3 linked regions of the Homo sapiens genome follow. The protein of the gene in region 2 interacts with the protein of the main gene of each other region in a pairwise test. Each region holds a gene or a part of one and is shown on either strand. Other genes may lie near its edges.

Region 1 (9,955 bases), on a different chromosome or scaffold from region 2:
CCTTGGCCCCTTTCAGCCATGGCTGAAGTGGCTAGGACACAGAGCACCAAGTCCCTAGGCTGCACAGAGCAGAGGTCCCTGGGCCCAGCCCAGGAAACCATTTTTTCCTCCTAGGCCTCTGAGTCTGTGATGGGAGGGGCTGTCACCAAGGTCTCTGACATGCCCTGCAGATATTTACCCCACTGTCTTGGTGATAAACATTTATCTCCTTGTTACTTATGCAAATTTCTGCAGCAGGCTTGAATTTCTCCCCAGATAATGGGTTTTTATTTTCTATTGCATTGTTAGGCTGCAAATTTTCCAAGCTTTTATGATCTGCTTCGCTTTTAAACATAAGTTCCAATTCCAAACCATATCTTTGTGAATACATAAAACTGAATGCTTTTAGCAGCACCAAAATCACATCTTGAATGCTTTGCTGCTTAGTAATTTCTTCCACCAGATACCCTAAAACATCTCTCTCAAGTTCAAAGTTCCACAGATCTCTAAGGCAGGGGCAAAATGTCACCAGTCTCTTTGCTAAAACATAGCAAGAGTCACCTTTATTCCAGTTCCCAACAAGTTCCTCATCTCCATCTGAGACCATCACAACCAGGACTTCATTGTCCATATCACTACCAGCATTTTGGTCAAAACCATTCAACAAGTCTCTAGGAAGCTCCAAACTTTTCCACATTTTTCTGTCTTCTTCTGAGCCCTTCAAACTGTTCCAACATCTGCCTGTTACCCAGTTCCAAAGTTGCTTCCACATTTTCAGGTATCTTTACTGTAACATCCCACTCTACTGGTACCAACTTACTGTATTAGTCCATTCTTATTCTGCTAATAAAGACATTACTGAGACTGGGTAATTTACAAATGAAAGAGATTTAATTGACTCACTGTTCTACATGGCTGGGGAGGCCACACAATAATGGTAGAATGTTAAAGAGGAGCAAAGTCACATCTTACATGGTGCCAGGGAAAAAGAGAGCTTGTGTAGGGAACTCCCCTTTATAAAGCCATTGGATCTCATGAGACTTATTCACTACCATGAGAACAGCATGGGAAAGCCTGTACCCATGATTCAATTACCTCCCACAGGGGTCCCTCCCATGACATGTGGAATTATGGGAGCTACAATTCAAGATGAGATTTGGGTGGGGAAACAGCCAAACCGTATCAGCCTTGTTGCAGCAGTTAGTGACTGAAATTGAAAGGGAAACTGTTCTTCAAAGACAAATTCCCGAGAACACTGAGGAGGAAGGAAATATCTGTGTTAGTAGAGGTGATTTAACCAGGTAGCTAAGGGCTCCTGGAATATTAGATATTTATAGGGACAAAGAAACCAGCTAATCCCAGAACAATGATTCCCTGGGTCCAGAACCACCTGTCCCCTCTTATCCCCTCCTACCTACTAAACTGGGCAGAGGCAGAGAGGTGATGGCAGTAATTAACCCTTCCCAGTAGTGGGGGGAGGTGCGCTGGTCCTCAGGCTCCATGGCTTCCCCCATAGTGAGTGCACACATCCTTCAGCTCAGGGCAGGCTTAGATCCAGCCTTGGGCCAACATCTCCCTGCCACTTATTAGCCCACCCATCTGAAAGCAGGGGATTTGAGATTTAAAAAAATGGGATTATAAGGTCAGTGATTTCCAGACCTTGGCACTTCACAAACCAGTAAAATCTCAAACAAAATGTGTGTGTGTGTGGGGGGGGGGGGTGGGGGGGGGGATAATATCAAAAAAAGGGCAAAATTTTGTTATGCAAGGTTGTTCAGAAAGAGTTAAGATGAAATTAAGATGGCAGATTCTGGTGCCAGGCAGCCTGGGTTGGAATCCTGGTGCCAATGCTAGATGCATGGTCTTAGGCAAGTCAGTGAATTTCTCTGTATCTCAGTTTCCTCATCTGTAAAATAAGGATGCAACGGTACCTACCTCTTTGGGGTTGTTATAATAATTAAAGAACTATACATAAACTGACACAAGAGATCACATATTGCAAGATTCAATTGACATAACATATACAGGAAAGGCAAATTTACAGAAAGGAGATTAAGGAGAGGGAACAGCATTCAACTTCAAATGAGGGATCTTACTGGGGGATGAAAATGTTCTAAAACAAATTTATGGTGATGGTTGCACCTCTTTGTAAAATTACTAAAAGACATTGAATTGTACATTTGAAATGGGTGAATTTTATAATACATAAAATAAACCTTGATAAAATTGTTTTAAAAGAATACATATAGCACTTAAACTATACCTGGCACCTAGTAAGTATTCAAGTGTAGTAAACACTTACCATCATTTCATGGAAGCCAAAAAAAAAAAAAGCCATGTTATTAGTTTGGTGCAAAAGTAATTGCGATTTTTGCCATTACTTTCAATAACATCACCAAAGTAAGGACCAGAATAAAGCACAAAAATCCCCTACTTGCTGTGAGTCGGGGAGGGTTCACATGTTATCACGTTTGGGGATGGGGAGGGGTATCAGAGTCTTGGAACTACTCTGACTCAGCCCTACCTTCCAGGGCATTTTTCAAACCAAGCCATTTGCATCCCTACCGAAGGTGGTCTGCTTATTTAAGGGGCAGCCCACGGAAGTGTCTCCTCTCTCTGCCTGCCCCGCTGAATGGTGGAATAATTGTCCAGTCAAAAAGGACCTGGATATGCCCAGCGGGCCTCAGGCTGCAGCCCCCTAACTGGGAAAGTTAGGAGAGGCGGGTCTCAGCCCCACCCAAGGGCATCTGTGCCAACAGACTTACTCAAGGTGAAAGGAGCCACCTCTGCTCAGGAAGGTGTGAAGCAGGGCCCTGCAGCCACCGGTCTCGGGAGAGAGGTGGTCTCCTGCTAGGTAGGAGGGGAGGAGTTGGGATCCAATCTGGTTTGTTGTTCTTTTCATCTTATTTTTTCACCCCTTTGGTGAGGGGCTACATTTGCCAACATCCCTTTTAGGATAACCCTTTTAGATGGGTCCAAAGAAAGACTTTTTTTTTTTTTTTTTTTTTTTTTTACAATTAGCAAAGTCCCTCAAACTTCCCCCTTTCCTAATAGCTGAGAAAAGAGGGATAGACCAATTGGAAAGAAAAATGGAGAAGCAAGGAAATGAATGCAACTCTCGCCCAGGCAACCCATCCCAGGCCCAGTAAAAGAGTGGCTTCGGGAGCTGTGGCGAAGGGATCAGCAGACCCAACAGTGCCCGGAGAAGGGGCCTTGGAGGTAGGCGATGGCTGACGGTTGGCGGCGGCTGAAGGCAATAAGTGCTCCTCGCAGCCTGGCAATGGGCACCTGCAGCCGGCGCTCCGCTCCCTGCTGTGAGAGCTCTGCTCCCTCCAGTCGGGACGCCCCGTTGGGCCGGCCTAATCTCGAAGCCTGGCTCCCACCACCCTGCGCCCCGGGATCAGCAGCCAAGCGCTACCCTCATACATAAGTTCCCGCGAGCCACGTCCGCAATTCAGGTGTGCACCAGGTCACTGAAGGGTGTGTGCGCCGCCAGGAGCCTCCATTGGCTGTGGGCTTTGACGAGCTGTTTAATCATTACCTCATCAAGTCCCACGGATCCTAACTTAATGAGCAAATCAGAAGCTCAGCCCGAAACGCTGTGAAGCTCTCAGAATTTAGCCCTGGCAACTGCAAGACCACCAGGGGGATCTCGGGGCCGGGCACTCCCCAAAGCAGGCTGCGCGCACAACGGGGAGCGGGATGGCAGCGCACAGAGGCAAAGTTTCCTCAGAGCATAGAGGCAAACTCCGCCAGGCTCGCTCTCTCTGACCGGGGGTCCCCGGTAAGCACACTCACCTCCGATCCAGCCCGCCGCAAAGTCTTCCAGCTGGAAGCTTCCCATGGCCGGCGCTCGGTCTCGCCCTCCCGGAGCCGGGGCAGTGCCCACTTAGAGTCAGTGGGGCATGGCCCGCGGGCGCGAGCGCGCCGCAAGACCGAAGTCGGAGTCTCGAGCACGCCGCAGGTCCTACTCCAAACCCAGTCCCCCAGTCACCGGCTGCGCGGGCTGCCGCGCTCACCTCTCCAAGTGCCGGAGGGCGGCTGACATCACGCCCCCAGTGGACCTTAAAGGCACAGCACTCTGGGTGGATAAGGGTGCGCTCCGCGCGGCTCATCCCAGACACAAAGAGGCAAGGGTCATCAAGTGAAATTCTCTTAGTCCTCCCTTCTCCGGGTTATCCTCTTCCTTGCCAACTTCAGAGCCTCAGCGCCTTTGAACTGAAAGTGCCAGCCGCCCATCCAGAGACGGCAATGCGCGTATCTCCCTGTACTGTGCTGTGCTGACAATGCTGATTCCAATCAGCTGTGGACTCTCTCCCATCCCAACTCTGGGCAGTGATGCCTTTTTGTTCATCTCAGCCATGTCCCACTCAGTACCCCGTGCCTAGAGCAGGCACCTGGTGGTTCAGGGTCATGTCTAACTTTCAGCTACAGCTCTCTAGGGGCCCAGCTCCCTGCCTGGCCCTGGCTCACCCTACACTGTCCGCCCTGGGCCAACAGAAGGCAGAGGTGGTGCTCTGTACCTCAAACTCCCTCTCTGTAGGCAGACCCTACATTCAGCCAGGCCCCAGGCCAGGGGTCCGTGCTCACTGGAGAAGTGGCCTGCTGTGCGGAGAGGCTTTTGATTACAATGAGAGTGTCTTTCCTCCCTTCCTAAGAAGACTCGAAGCCCCCCAGCGTTCTGCTAGTTTCCAGCAGGGACTCAGCTGTGGGTCTCAGCCAAGACACCCCAAGGTTGACAAGAATGGTGAAGGGTATGGTCAGGAGGAAGGGGCCTCTGCTGGGCCTGCTCTTGTCCCACTGGGCATATTCATGTCACGTCATCCAGGTTAATATGAAGCGACAGCCAGCCAGACCTCCTTCTTCCAAAGCAAGACAGAGCCTGACCACCGAAGCTTGATCCTACAAAGGCCTGTCCACTGAGGAGTGGGGACTTGGAGGTGAAGGGACCTTCCTGCAGCATCACTCCCTCCCCTGCCCCGGCACACAGAGAGTGGACCTGTATCGGGAGAGGACAGCCCGGGATGGAGTCGCCGGCCTGGCTAGGGAAGTATTGCAAAGTTCCAGGGAGGAGTGGAAGCATCACACCCCATCCCGGCACCTCAACTTCCTGCTGCTTATGGTGACCCACTCAGTCTTGAGGCTTCAGAGTTGCCATCAGCATCAACCCCAAGCTGTGCCCTGTCATGCCCGGGATATATGCCTAGGGCTGCTATGAGAAATGCAGGTCTCTGAAGAGTGGCCTTTTACTGAGTTCACCATTGGAATGCATCCACAAGTGGAAAGCCTGACAATTCTCAAAACCCACTCCTCTGGAAGACCACCTAAGGGGTGCCAGGCAGTTTGTCATCCCCTCAGTCCTGTGTCAGCACCAATTGAGGAGGTCTTACGTTGGCAGGCAGTGTCCCTGGCAGCCCAGGATGGCCTCCCAGGCCCAGAAAGCTGCTGCTTGAACTACTAACGAGCTGGAGCAGAGCAGGAGTGGGTTGCTTTCCAAAATGAATTACTGTGCTCCATTCCCATATGCATGCCACAAACCTGCCCATGGGGCGCATCACCCAGGGAAGTGAGGGGAGGACCCTAGGTTTACCAGCAACCATGGCCAGGCCTGGAGAATCCCAGACCACAGGGCTATGAGCCCAGGCAGAATGCTGGCTCTGTGGCCAGGATCCAGGCCATCCCTTCTTCCTGGCCTTCGCACTTCAGAGCACCATTTGCAGTGTGCTGCCATTCACATTTGCATTCTACACTCGGGAGAGGGCAGGGCAGCTACTGGCCATTACAGAGAGAAAGAAACTCCACAGAGATCCACTCCCTGCATGACTAGGGCCAGAAAGCAACCCCATTTTCTTTCTCCCTCAGTTCCTTCCCCAATGATGACCTCTCAGAGCACTTTCCTCAGTAGCAGGACATGCAGATGGGCTATGCTGATAGCATTTGTTAACTAGTGGCCCACTCCCCATTTCTTATTTACCCTTTCAGGCCACAGCAATTTCCTGAGCATCAGTCTGTGCTAGTGCCTTGCTTTGGGGAAAGTCTCTGTTTGAGAGGAGACAATCCATCTGAGATGCTACACAGAGGTGGCTGTAAGAGCACTGGAGAGGGAGTCCATCGTTCTACAGGAAGCAATCAGGGAAGGCTCTCCAAACTTGGAGTCTCCTGGCTGCACCTTTAGTCTACACAGCCCCACAGCTCCCACCTCCCCAACCACTCTCTCAGGCAAGCCAACAATCCCCTCCCCATGTCCACCTGCCACACTCGGGCAGCAAAGGCCTGGGTCAGCTGTCCATGCCTGACCTGCTGCAGTGAAGGCGCTGCCCATGCCGCCTGCTCCCCTCTGCTTCCAGATTCCTGCCCTCACCCAGCTTTCCTCCTGCTTCTCCAGCTCTTCTCATCTTCTTCCCTGGTGCCATGGCCCCTTCTCATGCTTAGGTGTGAATTCCTCAGGGCCCCATCTGGACCCTCACCCACCCGTACCTCCCATCTCTCAGCGTATAACCCCCACACCTTGCTTCAGAGTCCAGACATCCCTCTACTCAACACCTCCACCTGGGTGGCTCGGGTCATCTTAGCGCATCCCTCGATGAACTCTCTCTTCCTCCGCCAGTGCCTCTTCAACTTAGAGAAACACACCTCCACCCAGTGGCCACCCAAAACAGAACCTTGGATGCCATCCTCCATTTCTCTCTCCCAAGGTCTTATCCCACCAGCCGCAAAGTCCTGAGTGTCCATCCCCTCAATGACACCCAGCCCTCATTGCTGTCTCCGAATGTGGCTCAGCCCAGCCCTGTGCCACTGCCCTGCCTGGATCACAGTGGACACGGGTTCCTGGGTCCCTCTGCCCCTGTCCTACTGCCCCAGTGAGCTTCTGAAACTTTGAATCTGCTCAGTTTAGTGAACTTTGATGACTTTCTGTGATCTTGAGCATAAATTCCAATTCCCCAGTGTGTTGTGTGTAGCTCAGTAGGACTGGGTCTGGCTGCTTTTCCACTTTGCACCTCAATGTCTCACATTCTGTGCATGTGTGTGACTGCGCACATGCTATTCCCTTGTGGGGAACACCCTCTCCCTCCTCCCCTGGCTAATCCCTGCCCCCTTCTTCTTTAAGACTCAGTTCAGCTGTCACCTCCTGACAGGCCTTTCTTGAAGGCCTTCCTCATCACCCTATGCCACATGGTATCTTCTAGATCTCATCTGTGTTTCCTGAATATTCTGAGCATATCTGTATCTCTGCTGTCAGACTCAGTGGTTGATTGTCTTCCCATCCAGACTGTGAGCCCACTGAGAAGAGGGTACTGCCTCATTCTGCACTGGACCTGCAGAGCCTGGCGCAGGCCTGATGGGCAGTCAGTCACTGCTTAGTCCGCTGGGCCTTAAATGAGGAGACATGGGGAAAAGTCTGAAGGTCCTGCTGGTGGCTGGCAGACAAGGAGGGTGTCTGGATACAAGACAGAGCTGAAGAGGTGGTCACATCATTCCCAGGTGTGAGGACTCCCCCTGGCCTTTCCTGGAGCATCACAGAAGCCCGGCTTCTTTCAGGCCCTCAAAGGTACCAGCCACATTTCCCCCACAGAGCTTTTGCACTGATCACTCCCTCCACCTGCAGCTCCCTCTCCCTGCCCTCCTCATAGCCGACTCCTACCTCCTTCAGATCTATACCAAAGCATCTTCTGCATGAGGAGGCCTCCCCAGGCCCCTCACAGGAGGTCACGACCTGGTTGCCCTCTCTCAAGGCACCCCTGCTTCTTTTTCCAACTCTCACCATGCCGCTCAGTCCTTGTGCAATGCTTGGTTGCTCCAGGAAGATAGATAGGACCCGTCTGACCTATCTGCCACCGTGACATTTTCGGGCTCTGCCACAGAGCAGGCAGACAGCAATTACTCAGGACCGAGTTCAAAGGATTAATGAAACCGGACCACGGGCTTGTGCTGTCTTTCTTCTTTGAGTGTTTGCCCCAGCTGCATCATTCCTGCACTGGCCTCAGACAACGGGAGCTCTGAGCTCCCTCCTTGACTCTGATGGGAAGGAAAAGGAGCACACGATTTTCGAGCTTCTCATTGGGAGCAGGATTTCTTCCTTTGTTGATGGCACTTTGGGAAAGTATGTGCAGAGCATGTGCAGACTGAATCTGGCCCATCACCTGTTCAGCTTGAGGCTGGCAGTCAAGAAGCAGAGGTAAGTGGCTGTGAAGTGAGGGGGTGAAGCAGCTGGCGGGAAAGCTGGGCTGCCTGGGCTCTGGTCCTAGTGCTGCTGCTGCCTCTCTGGGCATCTTGGGAAAGTCCAGGCCTTAATTCTTCCTCTATTTTTTGGAAGGTAAGGACGATCTCCTCTTAGGTGGTGTCTGCAGAAGTCTGAAATTCTTGGCCACGGGGATATCAGCTGCGGAGGTCTCATCAAGATGCGCCAGGAGAGGGCGCTGCTGCGCAGCGCTTGAGGCTCTCGGGCGGAAAAGACAAGCGTGGCTGCTCATTCTGGATAGTTTCCTGGCCCGGTTTGCCTGGCACTGGCTGGCAGACAGCCACACTCAGTATATGTGTGGGCCGTGGAGGAGATGCTGGCCCAGGAGGCTCAGAGGGGAGTCTGAGGTGCCAGAGCAAACCTCGGAGAAGCTTGATGAGAACCCATCTAAGGTGTTTGAGTACTGTGTGCTTGGATGGGAGGCGACACCCCAATCTCTGTACCTGTGTAGATCTATCGAAGCCTTGAATGTCCCAGGCTTTCTTCCACCTCAGGGCTCCGAGCTGGCCCAGTGCTGCATGCTCCGTTTACACCATCTTGTTGAATTCTCTGACGCAAGTTCTCCTTGGGTAGGTGAGAAGAATGAGGTCCAGAGAGGTCAAGCAGTTTCTCTAAAGCCACACAGCAGTCAGTGGAGGATGATGAAGTCACACCTGCTGTTTGACTCCAGGGTCCATGCTATTAAAAAAAGTGCTGCCTCCTAGCCAAGACTCGGGAAGTAGAAGTGACTTTCCCAAAGACCCTTGCCCCCACCCCCACCCCTCTGCATAAATGCCCTAACTTTTCTGCCTCAGTTTCTCCACTATCAGTGTGATGGTACTAACACTGTCCAACTGTGCCATATTCATAGGACTCCTGCAACAGTTTAATCAGGGGGAAAACATCCCTTCCCCAATACCATCCCAGTGCCCTGGGCTGCCCTCTATCCTTTCTTTCCTGACAAGGTCCTGTGGGTCCACAGAAGTCTGAAATTCTGGGCCGCGGCGATATCAGCTTGAAAATCATATGTGCTTCTTTCCATCAGAGTCAACCTGCGGGTTGAGGCTGGCTCTGCGGACATCTGAGAATAGGAAATGCTGCTGTCCGCCTGACTGAAGGCCAGGCAGGTCAGTGGACCAGGCAGCCCAGGTTGGAGAGGTTTGGAATCAAGGGGTTTCTGTAGGAGTGTAGGAGGAGACCCTGCTGCGTGCTGCTGTCAAGGTCCCATCTGAAAGCCTGGCTGAGCACCTGCTATATGCTAAACTCCCTGGGACTCAGAGGAGTTTGAGTGCTGACAGTGACAGAAGAGCCAGTGTTTGGGGACAGCCTACTCCATCTTCTGCCATGTGGCATTCTCCTCTATCATGCAGTCATCAAACATCAGCTGCTGGGCTGGGGGAGACCCATAAATCTCACATCAGGCCTGACCTCAAATAGAGGCCAGGACCATAGGAAATTTGGAGGGCAGAACCCAGAAGTCTCGGGAAGGAGCAGCATTTGAGCTGGAACTAAAAAGACAAGCTAAGTTGTGAGCAGTGGAGAAGTGTGCAGAGGCAGAGGGAACTGCCTGAGTAGTGCCAGGTGGGAGAATGCAAGGGGAGTCGGGAAGAGTTTTGCTCACCCAAAGCCCCCATGGCTGTAGGAGGGGCAGCTGGAAGGCTTGGAGTTTGGCTCCTGAGGACCCTGAATGCCAAGGAAAGGGGCTAGGCCATGATTCTGTGGGCAGTGGCGTCTACAGGCTAGAGGCAGTCCTCAGTC
Region 2 (9,872 bases):
AGAGTATATGGGGGAGGATACAGTTTCGGGGATGCCACCTGACTTCCAGAGCACCGTATTCCAGGTTGAGTGGGTGGGGGGAAGGCCACCTGACTCTGAGGACAGTACAGGGCCTGCAGGTGTGGCTAGCAGCATGACGTGACCTGCTGACAAGGGTGAGGAAGCTTTGACTCAGGCCAAGCCCATCAGGACTCCAGACACTGGAGTCATTCACAGGCTCCACTTTAAGGTGCTGGGAGAAGCCATAGGCAAGAACTGATCAGGACGAACCAGATCCCAGCATGTATCCCGCTCTTCACCTACATAAATCTCACACATTACATGGTCTCACACTTGAAATGACTCCCTGGGCCATACAAAGTGGACTTTTGTCACTGTGGGCAGGGGATGGGCCTGGGAGATGAGGTGACATAAATGGTGATGGAACTGGGTGAGAGGTGGGGATGGGGACAGAAAAAGAGGAGAAAGCTTGCTCCAGAACAATGAGGTACAGCCCCAACAAGTGGTGATTCAGGTCTCTACCTATCCCCCAGGGTGTTGTGAGACTCAGAAGGCTGTTTCCTAGGAGAAACAGGCATGCTGAGAGAATGCAGGATATGGGCAAGTTTCCTTCAAGTGGAACGGCATCCTTCCCCTGGACAGTAAGCCGGTGTGCACAGAAGGCCAGGCTTAGCAAGGGCACTGTCAGAAGCTGTGTGTAGAGGATCGGCTCACAGGCCAGACTCCAGACTCAGATTCAAATCCAGATTCTAAGAGTTGCTAACGGTGTTAGCATAGGGAAGTCAGCTGCAGCCTTTCTGAGCTTCTGTTTTGTCATCCATAAACAGCATTTATGAAAGCATTGCTGGGAGGATTAGACCGAAGAAATGCAAGCAGGACACTCGCACAGAGCCTGACACATATGGGAACCTCAGTAAATATTTTCAGTGCTAATAGTAGTGGTAATAGCCTACTTCTGATCAAGAGGCCATGTGAATTCATTTTGAGAACTTACCACACCTCCACCAGGCACTAAACACCCAGCAGTGAAAGACAAAATATGAAAATTGACAAAATAAGAAAATTGAAATGACATAGTTGTACCCAGAAAACAAGATAAACATCTTGTGGACCAGAAACAACATAGAAACTCTACATAGTTAAGCGGGGGTGGAGGCAGGCAGAGGCAGGCCCCAAGGGCATTGGTGACTGGGTTTGAAGACATGCAGGGGCACCGGGACAGGAAGCCTAGCTTTGATCATCCTCTTCCATGCTGTGTTAGTTCGTTTTCACGCTGCTGACAAAGACATACCTGGGACTGGGCAATTTACAAAAGAAAGAGGTTTAACTGGACTTATAGTTACATGTGACTGGGGAAGCCTCACAATCATGGCGGAAGGCAAGGAGAAGCAAGTCACGTCTTAACATGGATTGCAGCAGGCAAAGAGAGAGCTTGTGCAGGGAACTCCCCTTTTTAAAACGGTCAGATTGGCTGGGTGCAGTGGCTCATGCCTGTAATCCCAGCACTTTGGGAGGCCGAGGTGGGCGGATCATCTGAGGTCAGGAGTTCAAGACCAGCCTGGCCAACATGGTGAAACCCTGTCTCTACTAAAAACAATACAAAATTAGCCGGGTGTGGTGGCGCATGCCTCTAATCCCAGCTACTTGGGAGGCTGAGGCAGGAGAATTGCTTGAACTCAGGAGGCGGAGGTTGCAGTGAGTCGAGATCGAGCCATTGCACTCCGGCCTGGGCAACAAGAGTGAAACTCAATCTCAAAAATAAAACAACAACAACAACAAAAAACAAATAACAAAAAATAAATAAATAAAAATTTTAAAAAATAAACCATCAGATCTTGTGAGACTTATTCACTATCACGAGAACAGCACAGGAAAGACCTGCCCCCATGATTCAATTATCTCCCACCAAGTCCCTCCCACAACATGTGGAAATTCAGGATGAGATTTGGGTGGGGGGCACAGCCAGGCCCCCAGGCCGGTGAGGGACACACAGTATCACATGCCTTTGTAGATTGTATAGTAATTATCATTTACATCAATAACCTCTTCACCCCAACCACAGGCAGAGAACTTTTCCAACACAGAAATTGAGTGGTCTTCATCTTTATGCTTTGCACTTCTCCTTGTGCCAAGTGTATGGTCTGTGTTCAAAATAAGAGAGAATTAAAGGAAAAGACTGGTGAAATTTGATAAACTCGCAAAGAATCAGATGGACCTAATATCTGCGTTTAAAACCCATCCTTGCTGCTCTTGAAGAGAGGTCTGGGAAATCCCTGCTGATCTAAATAGGTTGAGGGTTCCATCTCTGCTTTGTTTTGTATTAGCTATGTGACTAGGACCATCCATCAATGGCTTATTTGTTATCCCGAGAGTGAAACATGCACTGAATGTCTCATTTTTCACCTGGTCACTGTAACGCCATACACATAGCTGTTATTTCTGTACATTTCCACTCCATGTTCATATAGTAGAAATGCTGTTCCCTATACCTTTCTCCTTTCTAGGGAAATGGATAAACAAACAGATCTACGGGATCTTTAGAAATGCCTTGAAATAAAAGTTTAGAGTGATATCTTCCTTTGTCTCAAGATCAAAATGTTTTCATTTCCTTTGTTCATTTTTCTATTACAGACCTCACATTCCAATCAGCAAATTAGTTGTTTCAGAATCCTATGATACTTATATCAGTAGAAGTTTCCAAGTAACAAAAGAAATAATAAGTGAATGTAAAAGTAAAGGTAAGTGGTATTATTCTGAACTCCATCTGTACATACGTGATTATTTCTCTATAATGGTTAATAGGTTATTCAAGATGTTTCAACTTGCTTTGGCTAACCAAAGAAATGTATTTCCAGATTTTCTTCCAGATACTTTTACATTAAATTTGTAATATTCTCTGAGTTCCTAAAATGGTAGATATTCCAGGGGTTTATACCAGACTTAGTTACTATTCTTAATAACTTAAATTCTGCGTTATAGCTATTCTTCTTGCACCCTGTGAAAGAGATTCCCTCTTATAATTTCCAAAAGCTCTAGCATGCCACTGTTTTGCCTATAATTGATGCAGCGGCATGCACACCTACACACAGCACACCTACACAAACACATACACCTTCCCTGCTATCACCAACCAAGAGCAGTGTTGTATAAGGCTCAAGTGTGTTTGCTATTGAATTTTCTAAACACTGAGCTCAAATATTTAATATGTAAGACTGTTCACTATCAATTTTTTAGTGAAAAAGGCATATTGCAAAAAAAGTATGGACATTCCCTTCATCTCTTTTTTTAAGTTAAAATACTTATATTCAAACAGTAGGCAGCCATGAGCAACAGTATTATGAATGATTCCCACCTTCCAGTTTTCATTGATTAGCCACTCACTACCATAAAGGTACACAACATGTTCTATCAACCAGGAAGTCTCAAGTGCTCATAGTTCTATAGTGGGAACACTTAAAACTATGTTAGAAGGAGTTGCACAGACAGCCCTATGGACACACAACAGTCCTGTATCTTGATTGTCATGGTGTTACAAAAAGCTACACATATGATAGAATTGCATGAACTGTATCGTCACATATGCACAAACGACTTCTTGCACACCTGCTAAAATCTGAATACGCTGTGTGTATTGTACCAGCGTCCATTTCCTGGGTTTGATACTGTACCATAGTTATGTAAGATGTTACCATTGGAGGGGGATGGGATGAAGGGTTCATGGGATCTTGTCGGTATGTATGTATATGTATGTAACCCTCCCATAAATCCATAATTATTATTATTATTTTTGAGACAGGGTCTTGCTCCTGACACTCAGGCTGGAGCGCAGTGATGCAATCATGGCTCACTATAGCCTCAATCTCCTGGGCTCAAGTGATCCTCCCACATCAGCCTCCCAAGTAGCTGGGACTGCAGGCACAGGCCACCACACCCAGCTAATTTTTTAAAAATTTTCTATAGGGACAGGGTCTCACTATGTTGCTCAGGCTGGTCTCAAACTCCTGAACTCAAGTGGTCCTCCCTCCTCGTTCTCTCAAAATTACTGGGATTACAGGGATGAGCCACCACACCCGGCCCCATAAATCTGTAACTATTTTAAGATAAATGTTTTCTTTAAAAAGATTAAGCTGCCTTATCAGTAACAAAGCACTTTCAAAATATTGCTTAGGCAAATTGTCTTCTTGAGTGTGTTTGCTCCCCTGCAGAGCATTTAGTTAGCTTCCAGTATTTGCAAAGTTTCCATGTCTTTATAGAAACAGTCTTCCCATACCTTGCCATTTTCCCCCAGGAAATAACATCCTGATTGTGGCCCACGCATCTTCCCTTGAAGCGTGTACCTGCCAACTTCAGGGCCTGTCACCTCAGAACTCCAAGGACTTCGTACAAATGGTCCGAAAGGTAATTCATTCTCGTACTTTGGGGTCCGTGATGGCTAGTAGTTTGAAGTCAGTACAGTGACTGGCTGATTACCAAGTTCTTTGAAGCATGTGTTTATGCTGAGCTGGGAATATTCATTTATTGCTTCACTCAACCAAGATGTATTGAGTGATACTCTGTGCAGGGCACTTTATTAAGCCTTGTGTTAGAAAAACAATGTATGAGAGCTAGTTCTAGCTTCTAAGAGCTAAAATGTAGGAAGCAGCTAGGAATTATAAGCAAATTGTCTGGATTTCCCTGAGGGACCTTCTCTGAATTTCCCTGAGGGAACTTGGGTTGGATCAATAGAGGTCAGTCCAAAAGACAGCATCTGAAAGCTTAACTCAAACACAGGTCCTTGAAGGTAGGCCGAGGCATGCAGCAGTTTCAAATGAGGAGGCTAAAAGGCAAAGCCAGGAACAAGACAGCAAGACAGAAAACCCATGAGGCTGACCCACACATCTGGAGTCTTCCTTTCTGTGCCTGTGGGAGAGGTTTTCTGGTCAGCTGCCTCCCACACACTTCCCTTCAGGCAAATTACATACTTCCTTTCTCTGCCGCCAGAGAACCTGGTTCAAACTCAATTGCAATCTTTTTTCACATTTTTGAAAAGTTTATTTATGCATCTGTCCTCATTTGTAAGTGCTGGAAGACAGAGAATTTTGTCTTGTTTGTAAATGCAGCTCTGGACACAGACAAAAATAAGTTTTAAAATTGCTGTGACAACTGAAGTGAGGGAGAGCACAGCTTCAGCTTTGAATGTTGCAGAGACTCGTAAGGAGAAAAAAAAAACGGGTGAAACAAATTTTTTCAAATTGAAAAATATTTTCCATTGGGTCCAAGTATAATTTCAGAAATGTTTGAGCTGACTTTTTCTTTTCTTTTTTCTTTTTTTTTTGAGACAGAGCCTTGCTCTGTCACCCAGGCTAGAGCACAGTGGCGTAATCTCGGTTCACTTTAACCTCTGCCTCCTGGATTCAAGCGATTCTCCTGATTCAGCCTCCCACGTAGCTGGGATTACAGGCACATGCCACCACGCCCAGCTAATTTTTTGTATTTTTAGTATAGATGAGGTTTGCCATGTTGGCCAGGCTGGTCTCGAACTCTTGACCTCAAGTGACCCGCCCGCCTCGGCCTCCCAAAGTACTGGGATTACAGGCGTGAGCCACTGTGCCCGGCCTTGAGCTGCCTTTTTACCTGGACTTGCAATTGGGAATTAACTCCTGGCATTGTAGCCTTATGTATTTTGGTCCTCTTTTTCTGCCACCCAATTAAGCAGCAATCTATGAACAATGACTTAATTACTTTAGGGGAGGTCACCATTTAATGGATCCTTCTGATGAATCCTCTTGCAATGTAAATACTCTTCTAAGTTACCAGTTTTACCCATTTTATTTTATTTATCGATTTTTGAAGGGAATGCATTTCTACAAAGCCACTATCCATTTCTGACTGCAATTCTCTAGGGCCACATGAATATCTTTGTATTTAGGTAAAAGTTAAAGCATTAAACCTATCTCCTAATATCCCCTTTCTTTACGACTCTTACTTCAGATCCCATATCTGGGATTTTGTTCCTGTGAAGAATTAGGAGAAACTGGAATATGGCAGCTGACAGATCCACCAATCCTTCCTCTTACCCATGGACCAACTGGGGGCTTCAACTGGAGAGAGACCTTGCTTCAAGAATAAACCACACCAGTGAACAAGAAGGAAAGGCCTTTTGGAGTGTGTCTTTCTGTGTGTTTAAAAACAGTGGGAAAATCCACACCACACTCTAAGTGGACAGCTCAGAATAATTTAGCATATTTCCTTTCACACTTAAAGTTCTTAAGATGAGACTGTGTAAATGAGAGAAAGACTTGATTCAGAGGAAAAAAATGTGTTCTCTCTGGACTCTTGCCTAGCTCACAAGGCTTTGGAGAATTGTCTTCCTAAATCGGGGCACCTGCTACAGAAGAGAATGTTTCGTTCCCTCTGGGTATGCACAGCTAAGGGGCCTCATTTCTCCCAGAGGGAGCTGCTGGCCCGCTCTAAGGGGTGCAAGAGGAAGGAGTGTGCCCAGACCAGCTGGGGGAGCATTGAAAGGACAGCTTGGGGATGGAATTTTTTTTTTTTTATCTCCATTTTCCAGTTAGGTAGAGCCAAGCTGAGGAATCCTTTTAAGATTATTAGAAAACATGCCCTGAAGAGAGTTGTTCTTAGGTTACACATGAAATCCTACCGTCACTAGCCCCCATACACCAGTGTTGCTGGCTGAAGATACCCGCTTAAGGATGCTAACATTTACCCTGGTACTGCCACATTTTCTCTAGAGCAGCTGGCCCTTCTTGCTACAGCCCTATCCCCCCTCCTTGCTTCTGTGAAATGGGGAGACAAAGCACTTTTGCTCTCCAAAGCACTTTTGGATACTCAGGAGGAAAGATAAGATACATGTTTGAAGTATTCAATCATAGGAGCAAAGAACTTGCAAAATATGAAGTGACTTGGAATTAACCATGTTGTAGCCTAACGTGCTACTGCATTTCTAAATCATCAATATTTGCTTGTCTTTGCCCCTAGACTCTAGACTATGTTAACTAGTTAAGGATGTTACATTTTGAAAGGATGTATGTTAGATATATTATTTGCAGCAAGAAGTTCATTCTGTGCAATATGGACATGTTTGCAAACCATACCAAGGGTCAGGTTGTTGTACACTTACAGTACGTGTCAACCATAATGGAACATCCACAAATGCATCAATTATACCAGGGATGTATAGTAAGTCAGGGAACTAATATAAATGATGACAGTCATGGCTGCACTGCTACTTGTGCTGTCGTTTTGTTTGTTTTTCTATGATAATTTAAAATACATAGGTAGGGCTACTGAGGAAATTTGGAGAGCCACATTCTGTGGTTTCTCATTATACTTACTTCCTGCATTTAGAGGGAGTTTATTTAAAAGAAATAAATGACAATCAAACCAAATCATCAGTTATCAATGTCTGTTTAATTGTGTGACTATCTGACTGTTGATGGCCACAGATGATGGTCTCCTATGGTATAGTTCACTCTGTAGAAGATGTATGCAAAGTGAAATGCCAGCCCTTTAAAGAGACATTAGTTAGTGTAAAATGGATCTTTACATGTTGCAGTAACATTGACTATGTTTCAAAACTCAGATGCATAAAACGTAAGGTATATAAAAATACATCTATGCTTGCGTTTGAAACTACAACTTGATAACCCCTAGAAAGAAGAGGACATGAAAGGATGCTGGCTATATATGTTAATGAGCAAAAGGATTATAGTTGTTTTGTTTTGTTTTTAGAGACAGGGTCTCACTATAATGCTTAGACTGGTCTTGAACTCCTGGGCTCAAGCGATCCTCCTGCCCCTGTCTCCCAAAGTGCTAGGATTACAGGTGTGAGCCACCACACCTGGCCCATAGTTGTATTTTTTTTAGGTCACTTAGAAAAATATGTCATGTATTTTACATTTTGAGAAACAAATCAATCATGGTTTCTTCTAGCGTTGCGCAAACACTGACCCAGCTTCTGGGTATGGAAATAACCCTGTGATGATGTGTTAATATAAAATGTTGGGAGGGAATATTCCCAATAAAGGTCTTAAGAGAAAAGTCACATTACAAGTAATGTAATGGCTCTACCATTCATTCTTCTGGTATTTGTAATGAAGTGAATCCACTGTTTAATCAGATCCATAATCTTTAACAGATTCACCACAAATTTTCATGGGCGTTGAGTGCTCAGAATAATGCTTGAACACCTCACCTTGAAACTGTAGCAGTGTGTTCTGGGCAGTATCTGTAATGTATGAAATAGAGTCTGGAATAGGTTATCCACTCCATCTTCTAGGTTATCTTAGTTGTATGACGAACTGATAAATCTGTCTGACTGGGCTACAATCCATTGTTCTTAGTCCAATATGGACACTGCCTTAGGCAATGGTCTATATAAGCAAAAGGAGATAGAGATCTGAAATAATTTTCCGAATAATTCAGGTGGAAAACAAGAAAGATTGTATTTCTCTGCTTTCATTTCAATTTCATTATTTCAAATTGCTTGTCAAAATGGCCCAAAAGATCTGAATTCACATTAAGTTCCCCTTGCACACTTACCTATTTAAAAAACTAAACTTGCACTGCAACTGAGAAATTATTTGTAAATCATGTGGCATCTATGTATAATAAAAGAAAGAGACAACTATATTACTCAATTTCATATACATCCAAAAAGTATAGGCTAATATATATAACCTGAAGTTGCAGCTGGTTCTTTTTGATCTGAAGCTGATGCTTATTAAAACAAATGATGTATGGGGAGAGGAGAAGGAAGGGCAAGGAAGGAATTGACAGATAAGAAGCAAATGGTTTCTTGTACAGAGGAATTTTGTTTTAATGTAGAAAGTTATTTGAAATAAACTAGGTGAAATGAAATTAACTAAAGGTTTTAATCTGGGATTGAAAGCCTGAAAGCATTTCCTGCTTCTACAAGTGTGCCACATCAATCCGGTAATGCCCCAGTGTTATTCACAGACAGAACTTTGTTTCCTGTGATTTTAAAATACCGCGTCTGTTCCTCCATGGACCAGAGTAATTGGCACATTTTAATGCATAAGCTGGGGGTTTCATTTTCCCAGGCTCTCTTCACCATCACTGCATTGGTAGCTAGGAGCTTATTGCTTCACCCCAGTATGGAGTTCAGATTACAGTGTTTTCCATTACATTTAGATTCATAGAATCTGAATGGCTGATTAAATGGCCATCTGATGGCTGAAAGAGGGGCGTATTTTTCACTCTGTAGTGAAAGGCTTGGAGGAGTTTCTACTTTTTATTTTAATTATACTTTAACCAAAGAATTATTTTAAAGTAACCTTATATTTAAAAGATGATTTTGCAAAAAATAAAAAATAAAAAATATGCCTTCTGGAGTGATGTCTGTTTGGTAAATCATTGTTGATAATTTCCTTGTTAGTGGTATTTGGAATGCATATAGATTGTCTTGTCATTGTGCTTAACATTACCATAAGTGTGTCTTTTCCACTCAACTAGCTGTATTCGTATTAAAATGAAGTCTCTTATTTCAATTACCTAGTGTTGTTGGGAACTAATTGAACAGCTACAGTAAAAGAAGTTCCTATCTCATTGCCTTTGTGGAAAGGCTTCCCTATGTGGTAAAAGAAAGGCATTCCTCCGTAACCTAGGCACTCTGCAAGTCCAGTGTTTAATTTCAAAGCAGTGATGAATTGCTCTTTTGAAATTACTCTAAGTAATCCATGTGTTAGAATACAGATGAACCTCCGTTTGATTTCACAGCCTTCAGCACAGGCAACTGTTACTGAGTCTGCACGAACTTAGATAATGAGGTGCAGGGTTATTTGCATTTAAATTGCAATCCAGCACACGTGTGAGAAAGAAGAGGCACTAGTCTAAAAGGCTGCATTGCGGGG
Region 3 (10,863 bases), on a different chromosome or scaffold from region 2:
AGAGGCCACCCAGGCTGGGGTCCCCGTGGGGCACTCACCCCTGTGAGCACATGGACGCCAGCCTGCTCACCTGAATTAGAGATGGACTTGACAGACTGGAAGCTTGACGTGGAGAGGCTGTCTGCAGGAGAGCGCACAGTGTCGGCGCTACCGCCCGCAAGACGCCCATGCTTGCCTCCTGGCCTGTGTGTCCGTGAGGAGCCCTCCTTCAGCCTGGCAGGGCTGGGTCCTCCCGGCTCTACCCACACTCCGTTGATGCAGACCCAGCGAGCGCCCAAGGGAGCAGAGGCCCTGGAAAGGTGGTTTCCTGAGGGGCCATCTGGAAAGCAGGAGGGCTTGGGACACATGGAACAGCAGGTCCCGAGGGAGAGCATGGCCTCTTCCCGTGTCCTGTCAGCGTCCCCAGCACTGCAGGGCTGGGGCTGCCGACTTGGGCCACACTTTGCCCAGAACAGCTCACTGGAGTTGCCACAGCGGCTAGGGAAGGGCCCTCCCTCAACCCCATTCTCCATGTCTCTCTGGGAAGGGAGAGCCCTAGGCACTGCCCCAGCTACGATGTTCCCAGGCTGGCTCCATCCACCAGTCAGATGTCCTCCTGATGTCAGCCCCAGCCCCAAAGATAACGGGAAGTGAGCTCGAGACCACAACCCAGAATCCTGGGCTGGGTGGGGGCCGCTGTCAGGATGGGGAAGTGCCTTGGACAAGTGGCAAGGAAACAGGACTCTGCTTCCTCCCTTTGTCCCCATGGTTGCTGCCCAGATGGCAGGAAGGGATCCCTGGATGGAGTGTGTCCAGAGCCCCTGGGCCCCCAGCATGTCAGGACTCAGAGCCATAGGGCTGGAGATCCTGGGCCTGGCCACAGCAGCAATCTGAGGCAAAGATCTAGCAGGGCAGGGGCTGTCCCAGGGGTTCCTTCCCATTTCAGCTCTACTTGGAGGAGGGAGGTCTGGGGAGCACCCTGTGCCCACCTCCCCACTGCAATGACCTCAGGCCCTGGGCTTCCTGAGAGCAGCACGTGCTGTGCTTGGCTGCGTAACATCATCCAGCCACGGCTAGAGGTAGCGGCATCTGTCCAGGTCCCCCAGAACCTGTCCCCACTGGGTTGGCATACAGGGGCCAGTGCAGCCAGGTGGGCAAGGACAGTCTGGAGGGGCTCCCCTGGGTGGCAAGAGCATCCCATCAGGAACTGAAGGGCCCAGTTCTCACCTTTCTTCTGTGATGTCTGATTCATTATGAGCTTGTAACGGAGATCTGAAAGCAAGCACACGCTCTCCTCAGCACTTGTGAAACCACAGCCATTCTGAGAGAAGAAGCCTGGCCTGTCCTCTCCTGGCTGCTGAGCCCGAAAGTCCTGCCCCCCCACTGGCTGATTGGGCCCTGCCCCATGGATCCCGCTCTCCACCATGCCTTTGTCGTGGGTGTCAGGCCAGGAGTGGCCCCTGCCTGTTCCCTAGGCAGAGCCCACCTGGCATATCAGCCTCATCCATCTGAGATGACTGGAGGGCGTCCACACTGCCAGGCAGAACCTGGGCTTTAGGGGTACAGAGGTGAACTCTGGAATCCCTGGCTATGGCGGTGTCATGATCCCGTGGGCATCAGGGACTGGGGGGAGGCTCAAGAAGATATGAGGAACGGGGCGTCCTGAGGCTCAAGAAGACATGGGGAAGCGGGGTCCTGACAAAACAGACGCCTGGTGATGGGATACTCGGCACTCAGGTAAGGCAGCAGCAGGGAACGGGGCGGGAGAGGAGGCCGCGGGCACTGGTGCCCTTGCTGGAGCCCTCCTGAAGCAAGAGCGAGGAGCGGAGCCACATCCCACATCCTGGCGGGCCCTCCTCCTGCTCGGGGCAGGAGGGGTGGGGGAGGAGGGAGGGAGAAAGGGGGGCGTGGGGGTGAGGAGCAGCTAAGGGTGCAGTTGGGAAGGCCCCGCCGGAGGACAGCATGGGCACAGGCGAAGCGGGGACGGGGTGGGGGGCGGGGGAATGCCTGCTCCTGATCCGATGTGTTTAGCTGGAAGAAATTCACTGAGCTGCGCACTCGCACTTGGGCACGTTTCCCTGCATAAAGTTTTTGTTTGTTTGTTTTTGTTTTTTTTGAGACGGAGTCTCGCTCTGTCACCGAGGCTGGAGTGCAGTGGCAAGATCTCGGCTCACTGCAAGCTCCGCCTCCCGGGTTCACGCCATTCTCCTGCCTCAGCCTCCCGAGTAGCTGGGACTACAGACGCCCACCACCACACCCAGCTAACTTTTTGTATTTTTAGTAGAGACGGGGTTTCACCGTGTTAGCCAGGATGGTCTCGATCTCCTGACCTCGCGATCCGCCCGTCTCGGTCTCCCAAAGTGCTGGAATTACAGGCGTGAGCCGCCGCGCCCGGGCCCCTCTATAAAGTTTTTAACAGAGGTGTGTCTGACCCTGCTTGGAGAGGAGAGGACTGGCGGAGTCAGCATCTGAAATGCTGCTGCCCTAGGAGACAGGCAGACAGGTTCGGCACTGCCCGGGGGCCACGCGGGTCTCCCTCTGGGAGGAGGGGACAGCTCAGCGTGGCAGGGCGGGCTTACCGTCCTGTGTTCCCCCTGAGCCCAGGCGTGTGCTGGAGTTGATGGCTGTGTTTCTGTGCTGCGGGAGCGGCAGTGTTGAGTGTGCCTGGGGAGGCAGGGCCGGCCTAGGGCCCCGCGCCGGCTCACCCTTGTTTTCCCGCTTCAGATGCTCGATCTCCTCATGGAGCTTGGCCAGCATCTCCGAGTGCTGCTGCTGCAGGAACTGTAGGCTCTTCTCCAGGTCCAGGTTCCGTTTCTGCGGGTCGCTCTGCCTGAGCTGCGGGCTCTGCGGCCTCAAGGACTGGACGCCCACAGAGGGGCGCTGGCGCCGGCGCCGAGAGCCCGGGGTCGGCGAGCTGGGGGGCCGCGTCCCAGCCGCCACCCCCGCACCGCTCATATCGCCATCGCCAGGTACTCTCCCGCTGCCACTGCACCCCGGCTCAGTGGCCAGGCCGCCCTAGCCTGGCGCCCCGTCACCATGGAAACCGGGCGACGGAGGGCGCCAGGCGTTTGGCGGGGGCGGGGCCTGTCGCTGGCTCTTCCTGGGTGAGTAGTGATTTACAAGGCATCCAGGGCTGGGCGCCGGGGCTCACGCCTGTAATCCCCGAACTTTGGGAGGCCGAGGCGGACGGATCACTTGAGGTCAGGAGTTCCTGACCAGCCTGACCAACATGGCGAAACCCCGACTCTACTAAAAATACAAAATTTAGCCGGGCGTAGTGGCGGGAGCCAGTAATCCCAGCTACTCCGGAGGCTAAGGCAGGAGAATAGCTTGAACCGGGAGGCAGAGGTTGCAGTGAGCCGAGATCGCACCGCTGCACTCCAACCTGGGCGACAGAGACTCTATCTAAAATAATAATAATAATAATAATAATAATAATAATAATAATAAAAGGCATCCTTTCCAGCCTGGATGGAAAGTGAGCCCCTGTCTCTATAAAAATTAAAAGAAAAAAAACCCGGGCATGGTGGCTTGCGCCTGTAGTCCCAACTGCTCGGGAGGCTGAGGTGGGAGGATTGCTGGAACCCCGGAGGTCGAGGCTGCAGTGAGCTATGATGGCACCACTGAACTCCAGCCTAAGTGACAGAGTGAGATGCTGCCTAAAAATAAGAGGCCGGGCGCAGTGGTTCACACCTGTAATCCCAGCTACTCCGGAGGCTGAGGCAGGAGAATCACTTGAACCCAGGAGGTGGAGGTTGCAGTGAGCCAAGATCGCGCCATTGCACTCCAGCCTGGGCGACAGGGTGGGATTCTGTCTCAAAAAAAAAAAAAATAATAAATAAATAAATAAATTTAAAAATAATAAAAATAAAAAGTCTTTTTTTTTTTTACAAGGCCTGCCCTCAAAAAAAAAAAAAATCACAGCCAGGCCAATCATAATTTTGCCAGACACCAACAAACCTGGAGGAAGGGAACATAGCTAACCCCAGCCTGCTCTGGCTCTCCTTCCCCACATCTTACTGCCACATCAGCGGGGCTCCTGTATAATAACAGGGGATACAAGTGAAAGAACTGCTCATCTCAGAGCTTATTCGAGAAATCTCTAGGAAACCGTAAAGACAACAGGGAGACAAAAACTAAGACACTAGAGGAGGTTTAAGCCTCTGACACCTCCAGTTAACAAACAGCACACATGGCACAACCCCTAACCAGACCAACATAAAACTTCACACAGAAAGTCCATTTACTGGTTGAGCATGACCAGCCCTCAACAAAAACTTGCAAGGCATAATAAAAAACAACACAGTTCGAAGACACAGCAAGCATCAGAGCCACACTTAAATATGGCAGAGATGTTGGAATTATCAGACCAAGAAATGGAATACGACTATGATTAATATGCTAAGGGCTCTAATGGAAAAAGTGGACAACATGAGATTACAGACTGATAATGGGAACAGAGAGGTAGACGTTCTAAGAAATAATCTAAAGAAAATGTGAAGGCCAGGCAGGGTGGCTCATGTCTGTAATCCCAGCACTTTGGGAGGCTGAGTTGGGCAGATCATTTGAGGTCAGGAGCTCAAGACCAGCCTGGCCAACATGGTGATACCCCATCTCTACTAAAAAATACAAAAATTAGCTAGTGTGGTGGCATGCACCTGTAATTCCAGCTACTTGGGAAGCTAAGGTGGGAGGATTGCTTGAATCCAGGAGGTGGAGGTTGCAGTGAGCCGAGATCATGCCACTGCCCTCAAGCCTGGGCAACAGAGTAAGACTCCATCTCAAAAAAAAAAAAAAGAAGAAGAAAAGAAAAGAAAATGTGAGAAGTTGGCCAGGCACAGTGGCTTACACCGCTAATCCCAACACTTTGGGAGGCCGAGGTGGGTGAATCACTTGAGGTCAGGAGTTCAAGACCAGCCTGGGCAACATGGTGAAAACCCATCTCTACTAAAAATACAAAAATTATTGGGAGGCCGAGGCGGGCGGATCATGAGGTCAGGAGATCGAGACCATCCTGGCTAACACGGTAAAACCCCATCTCTACTAAAATACAAAAAATTAGCCAGGCATGGTGGTGGGCGCCTGTGGTCCCAGCTACTCGGGAAGCTGAGGTAGAAGAATGGCGTGAACCCGGGAGGCGGAGCTTGCAGTGAGCCAAGATCATGCCACTGCACTCCAGCCTGGGCGACAGAACAAGACTCCATCTCAAAAAAAAAAAAAGAAAAAAGAAAGGCAGGCATGGTGGTGCATGTCTGTAATCCCAGCTACTCAGGAGGCCGAGGCCAAAGAATTGCTTGAACCCAGGAGGTGAAGTTTCCAGCAAGCTGAGATCCTGCCACTGCACTCCATCCCGAGCAACAGAGTGAGACTCCATCTCAAAAAACTAAAAGAAAATGTAAGAAGTCAAAAACACAACAGAAATGAAAACTCAGGTGCATGGCTGATGCCTGTAATCCCAGCACTTTGAGAGGCCAAAGCAGGAGCATCTCTTGAGCCCAAGAGTTAGAGACCAGCCTGGGCAATATAGCCAGACCCTGACTCCACAAAAAACTAAAAAGTTTGCCTGCATGGTGGTGCACACCTGCAGTCCCAGCTACTGAGAAGGCTGAGATGCAGCGAGCCGTGATTGCACCACTGCACTCCAGCTTGGGCAACACAGAGAGACCCTGTTTCAAAAAAAGAAGGAAAAAGATATAGGAAATTTGGATCTAAAAAAAGGGAAGTGCATTAGAGAAGGAATAAAGTAAAATAAAATATAATCTTTATTATTATTTTTAATAGATGACAGGTTGTTCAAAAAAATTATGGCAACATGTATTTAGTAATTATGGTTTATGGATAGCTGGAATGAATGGTAGCAATATTATTGCTGGGAGGGAGGATATCCTGAGTGGAGAGAAATTCATCCAGGCAGGAGTGCAGTGGCGCGATTATAGCTCACTTGCAGCCTGGAACTCCTGGGCTCAAGCCATCCTCCTGCCTCAGCTTCCCTAGTAACTGGGATTACAGGCACACACCACGCCTGGCTAATTTTTTTTTTTTTTTTTGTCTTGCTATGTTGCCCAGATTGGTCTCAAACCCCTGGGCTGAGGCAATCTTCCTCCCTCAGCCTCCAGAAGTGTTGAAATTACAGGTATGAGCCACTGTGCCTGGTATATGGTTGCTTTTGAATGTCCTAGTCCTAAACATCTGGTTCCCAAGAAGGAGAAAAGAAAAATGAAGGCAGGAGGAGGTGCTGATCCATAAAAACCTCCTGGAAGGTGTGTACCCAGGGAGGCAGTGAGGGTTGAGGAGGGACGTTGCAAACATAGCAGTGGAGATTGCAGCAGTGGCTGCCTGCCTCTTTGTCTGCATTTTCACAATCAACAGCAGCCATCATCAATCAGAGCACAGATCCCCAGTATTTGGAGGATGGGGCTCTTATTGCCCGCTCTGGTTCCTGCAAGCTATAGGGAAGCTACTCCAGAAATGCATGCATGGCTGCTTGCACCACCAATTTAAATGCCACTTTCTTCTGAAAACACCCTTACAGACCTGCCAGGAAATAATGTGTAACCAGATATGAGTGCATCCGGTGGCCCAGACAAGCTGACATATAGAATTAACCATCACAAGTCCACCCCTTGTCAACCTGGCACCCATACACATCTCCTTAAACCATACGCACTCTCCAAATAAACACAATAACCCAGTGTTATTGTGTTAGCAGTGGAAGGTGTCCGAGTTAATAGTGTTAGCAGTGGAAGGTGTCCAAGTCACTGGCAGTGAATCCGGATGGGTCTTCAGCAACCACAATTCTTGGCTCCTCAGAAGAAGGAATTCGACTGAGGGGCATAAGGCAGAAAAAGAGACCGAAGCAAGTTTCAGAGCAGGAGTGGAAGTGTATTTTAAAAGGCTTTAGAACAGGAAAGAAAGGAAAGTACGCTTGGAAGAGACCTAAGTGGGCACATGAAAGTCAAGTGTGGTGTTTAACCTTGATCCTAGGACTTTCTAGACTGGCCCCTTTCCCATGATCCTTCCCTTAGGGTGGGCTGCCCACATGTACAGTACCCTCCTTACCCTTGGGAGTTCCTAAACACATGCAGTGTGTTTAGGAAACTGTATGCATGCCCATCTGAGGTTTTTGGGTGGGGTGCCCCCCGAAGGTCATACTCCACCACTTTGTCTCTTAATGCACATGCCTGGGAAGTTGATTCTCCCTGGAATCTGCATTCAATTAACACTTTAGTGAAATAGGTGTGGCCCATCAGGAAATGGCCTGTCCCTGGCGCCAGCTGCCAATTTATCACTTTTTTTATTTATTTATTTTTTGAGAAGGAGTCTCTTGTCACCCAGGCTGGAGTACAGTGGTACGATCTCGGCTTACTGCAACCTCTACATCCCAGGTTCAAGCGATCTTCTTGCCTCAGCCTCCCAAGTAACTGAGATTAGAGGCATGCGCCACCACACTAGCTAATTTTTGTATTTTCAGTAGAGATGGGATTTCAGCATGTTGGCCAGGCTGGTCTCAAACTCCTGACGTCAAGTGATCTTCCTGCCTCAGCCTCCTAAAGTGCTGGGATTACAGGCATGAGCCACTGCGCCTGGCCAAAAGTAGGAATTCTTGACTGGGAAATAATTTGATATATTTTCGCACCTTGTGACTTGAGAAAATTATGCTAGGAATTCTGGTTTTGGGAGTCAAGGGAAGCTAGCTTAATTTTTACAGTGAAGGCTACATAAGAGTCCGCTCTCCAGTGTGGTGGCTCACACCTGTAACCCTAGCACTTCAGGATGCGGAGGCGGTCGGATCACTTGAGCCTAGGAGTTCAAGACCAGCCTGGCAACACAGTGAGACCCCGTCTCTACAAAGAAATTTAAAAATTAGCAGGGTGCGGTGGCGCATGCCTGTAGTCCTGGCTACTTGGGATGCTGAGGCGGAAGGATTGCTTAAGCCCAGGAGTTAAGAGGCTGCAGTGAGCTGTCATGGTGCAGTGCACTCCAGCCTGGGCAATATAGCAAGACCTTGTCTCAAAACAGAGAGTTCTCTCTCATTTATATTGGAAATGTCAGGGTTATTGGTGAGAGCTGGCCTTTAGGGGATCTAACTTGCTCTTGGATGTCCAAGGGGAAAGGTATAGATTTCTCCCGACTGCACAGGGCCTCTGCTTGTGAGTTGCTTGCACAAGATGATCAGAATCTGACTTACCTTGGATCACGGGGGCGCTGGTATATCCTAGCGGTAGATCATGGAAGGGAGTGGGCCACGAATGGGATCCAGGGAACGGGATTGTCTCGGGGCAAGGAGGACGATGCGGAGGTGCGGGGGCAGGGGTGGTGTCAGGACAGGCTGAAGCTGCGCTGCCAGAGTCTCTGGGCCACGTGGTCAGAAAAGCATCGGATTTGGCCTGTTAGCAGGGGAGTGTGGCCCAATGGCAAAAAGTCAAGGGCATCCTAGGAGCTGAGGAGGCGGTGGCAGTGGCAGTTAGGGCAAACCACTCTGGAAGCATCCAGGGGTGGAGACAAGAATCTGCAGGAGCTCCTGCCTCCAGCCTGGCCTCCCTCCTCCTTGTGCCCCAGACAGAACTGCTTCCCCTGAGTTGCTCCAACTCGTCCTTCCCCGGAAGTCCCTCACAAGTGCCTCCTGGCCGGGCCCCCCCAACTGCATTTTGCTTCTGCTCTCATCCCAGCAGTCCCATTTTCTCTACAGTGAGAGTTCTTGGCAAAATTTAAATCCCATTTTATTGGCGAGGTCCCTACCCCCCACCTGGAAGTGGCTGGAACCCAGCTGCCCACTGCTGCCCTCGCTCCCCAGGGAGAAGCCACTGAGCACCAGCTGGCTTTGTGGCCATCGCTGTCCAGGTCCCAGCCACCAAGACCCTGACCCCTCACTCAGCTTTGCTGTTCTTGGTTCTCAATGCATTTTTGTCTGCCCTCCGCTCCTGGCCAGACAGTTCAGCCCCCAGCAACTCCCGCAATCCTCAGAGCTTCTGGAAGCCATAGACTTGGCAGCACATGTTCCCGGTGGTCAGCTTTTCTTTGAGAACAGGGTCTCACTCTGTCACCCAGGCTGGAGTATAGTGGCGTGATGAAGGCTCACTACAGCCTTGACCTCCTGGACCCTGATGATCCTCCAAACTCAGCATCCCAAGTAGCTGGGACCACACATGTGAACCGCCATGCCTAACTTTTTGAATCTTTTGTAAAGGCAGGGCAAAGTCTACTGTGCCTCTGAGAGAGGAAAGCATAGGAAGCCAGAGGTCCAGGCCTGTGGACACTAGCGGGAGGGGCCGACAGGGTGCCCAACAGTTGTTTCTGCAGCCCCCGTGTGCTCAGGGACTCTGTACAGGTGAACCTCCTAGAGACTGAGCCCAGGTGCCAGAAGACTCAGAAGCAAGGACATGTTTATTCAGATCCATGGTCGTTACAAGCTTCATTTTTGGTCACAGGCCCTAAAATGCCATTATGCTCAGTTTACATCAAAATACAAAGCCCAACATTTACAATTTCAAAAACATTAAAGCAAACCCCCAAAACCCCACACCGAAAACAAAGGCTTGGTTTGGAAATCACCACTGAGATGCTGTTCTCCCTCGCATGTCGCCTGTGGGGTGAATGAAGGTGAAGACCCCGTGCTGGTTTCTGTCAGAGAATCTGTAGTTGTATATTTTGAATACTTAAGTACCACTGAACGGTTGCCATGTCTTTGAGCACTTGATGTTACTGAAGTGACAATGCTTCTGACCATCTTTGGCTGCAGAGCAGAAACTGGCAGAATCCGACCCCATCGACCCAGCAGTGTCCCCAACGCCTGAGGACCAGCACCCATCTGTGACAAGGCACAGGGGTCCGCGATGTTGGCCACTGCTTTGGGTGATGTGCTCAATGGCTTGGGGTCTGCGGTGAAGCCCCTGGGCTCTGGGAGGGTCTTAGGCTCCTGAAACATGGAATTCTACGGCCCAGTCTTGGAACAGCTGGGAGAACATGAAGAACGCCCCTCACAGTGAAGAATCAGGACAGCCACTCTCTGGTTTTCTCACAACTCTAGAAACTTTGATTCTTTCCTGGAGTGGAGACTTAAGCCACTGTCCTGGTCCCACACAGAGAGAGGAAGCGCCACAACCCACTCTGCCAACCTCAAGGCCAGCCAGTGGGGAGGCCAGGCCCAGGTGGCTGTTGGCAGGCTGGCTCCCAAGCTTGGTGCAGCAGAGTAGCCAAATGGGCAGTGGAAAAAAGGCCCCGAGAGCTGGCTTGGCCGTGAGTCCTTGGCGGAGGGAGGGAAAGGCCGCCGCTGAGCTCTGCGCTGTCACAGAGCGTAGCTGTTGAGCCCTGGCAGCTACTCCTTTGCTGGGGCCCACCTGCCTTCCTTTCTTGGTTGCGTTTCCTCCAGATGCCTCTGCGGCTGCAGGAACCCCGCTCCAGAAGCCCGAGGATGACCGTGTTCCCTCCTGGAGGGGCTTCCCAGGTCCTCTCAGCCCAAGGGTGGGGCTGTGTGGCAAATCCCTCCAGCCTGCTCTGAAGGCAGCTGACACCTTCAGGGCTGGTGCAGCTTCCCCCGCTCGGTCAGCAGTGTCATGGCAGAGGCGTAGAGGACATAGCCCAGGGTGAGCAGCAGCGTGCATGGGAGGGGCCCGACGCAGAACAGAGAGGCCACGAAGAAGGCCAGCAGCAGCGAGACCAGCGTCCGGTAACTGCCCAGGAAGCGCAGGCTGAGCCTGGGGCCGCGGGTGTGGCCGGCCACCTGCCTCCGCCCCACAGGGCTCAGCAGGTGCCTGCTGGCCAGCCCAGGTTCTGTGAGGTGGTAGCGACAGAAGCTGCCGAGGAAGTCATCCCGGGAACACAGAGCCGCCATCTGTCCTGCAAACTGAAGCACAGACAGAGGCACGGGGATGTGGGGTGGTGGCA

The links.
Region 1: the proteins of UBASH3B (region 2) and SLC25A48 interact in binary tests that used the Homo sapiens proteins (3 or more experiments, as listed by UniProt).
Region 3: the proteins of UBASH3B (region 2) and CCDC74B interact in binary tests that used the Homo sapiens proteins (3 or more experiments, as listed by UniProt).

Annotation. Positions count from the first base shown.
Region 1 is NC_000005.10:135,828,716-135,838,670, reverse strand, and holds the start of SLC25A48 (solute carrier family 25 member 48), read right to left. Parts: upstream 4,009-9,955; 5' UTR 3,824-4,008; coding exon 3,778-3,823; intron 3,630-3,777; exon of another isoform or gene 3,406-3,629; intron 1-3,405.
Region 2 is NC_000011.10:122,803,779-122,813,650, forward strand, and holds part of UBASH3B (ubiquitin-associated and SH3 domain-containing protein B), read left to right. Parts: intron 1-2,631; coding exon 2,632-2,738; intron 2,739-4,288; coding exon 4,289-4,398; intron 4,399-5,970; coding exon 5,971-6,108; 3' UTR 6,109-9,872. UniProt on the Homo sapiens protein: Interferes with CBL-mediated down-regulation and degradation of receptor-type tyrosine kinases. Promotes accumulation of activated target receptors, such as T-cell receptors and EGFR, on the cell surface.
Region 3 is NC_000002.12:130,142,063-130,152,925, forward strand, and holds the start of CCDC74B (coiled-coil domain-containing protein 74B), read right to left. Parts: upstream 3,051-10,863; 5' UTR 2,935-3,050; coding exon 2,685-2,934; coding exon of another isoform or gene 2,559-2,684; intron 2,413-2,558; exon of another isoform or gene 2,278-2,412; intron 1,252-2,277; coding exon 1,207-1,251; intron 1,004-1,206; exon of another isoform or gene 921-1,003; coding exon of another isoform or gene 122-920; coding exon 71-121; intron 1-70. Other genes in the region: SMPD4 (sphingomyelin phosphodiesterase 4), read right to left, coding at 10,493-10,822.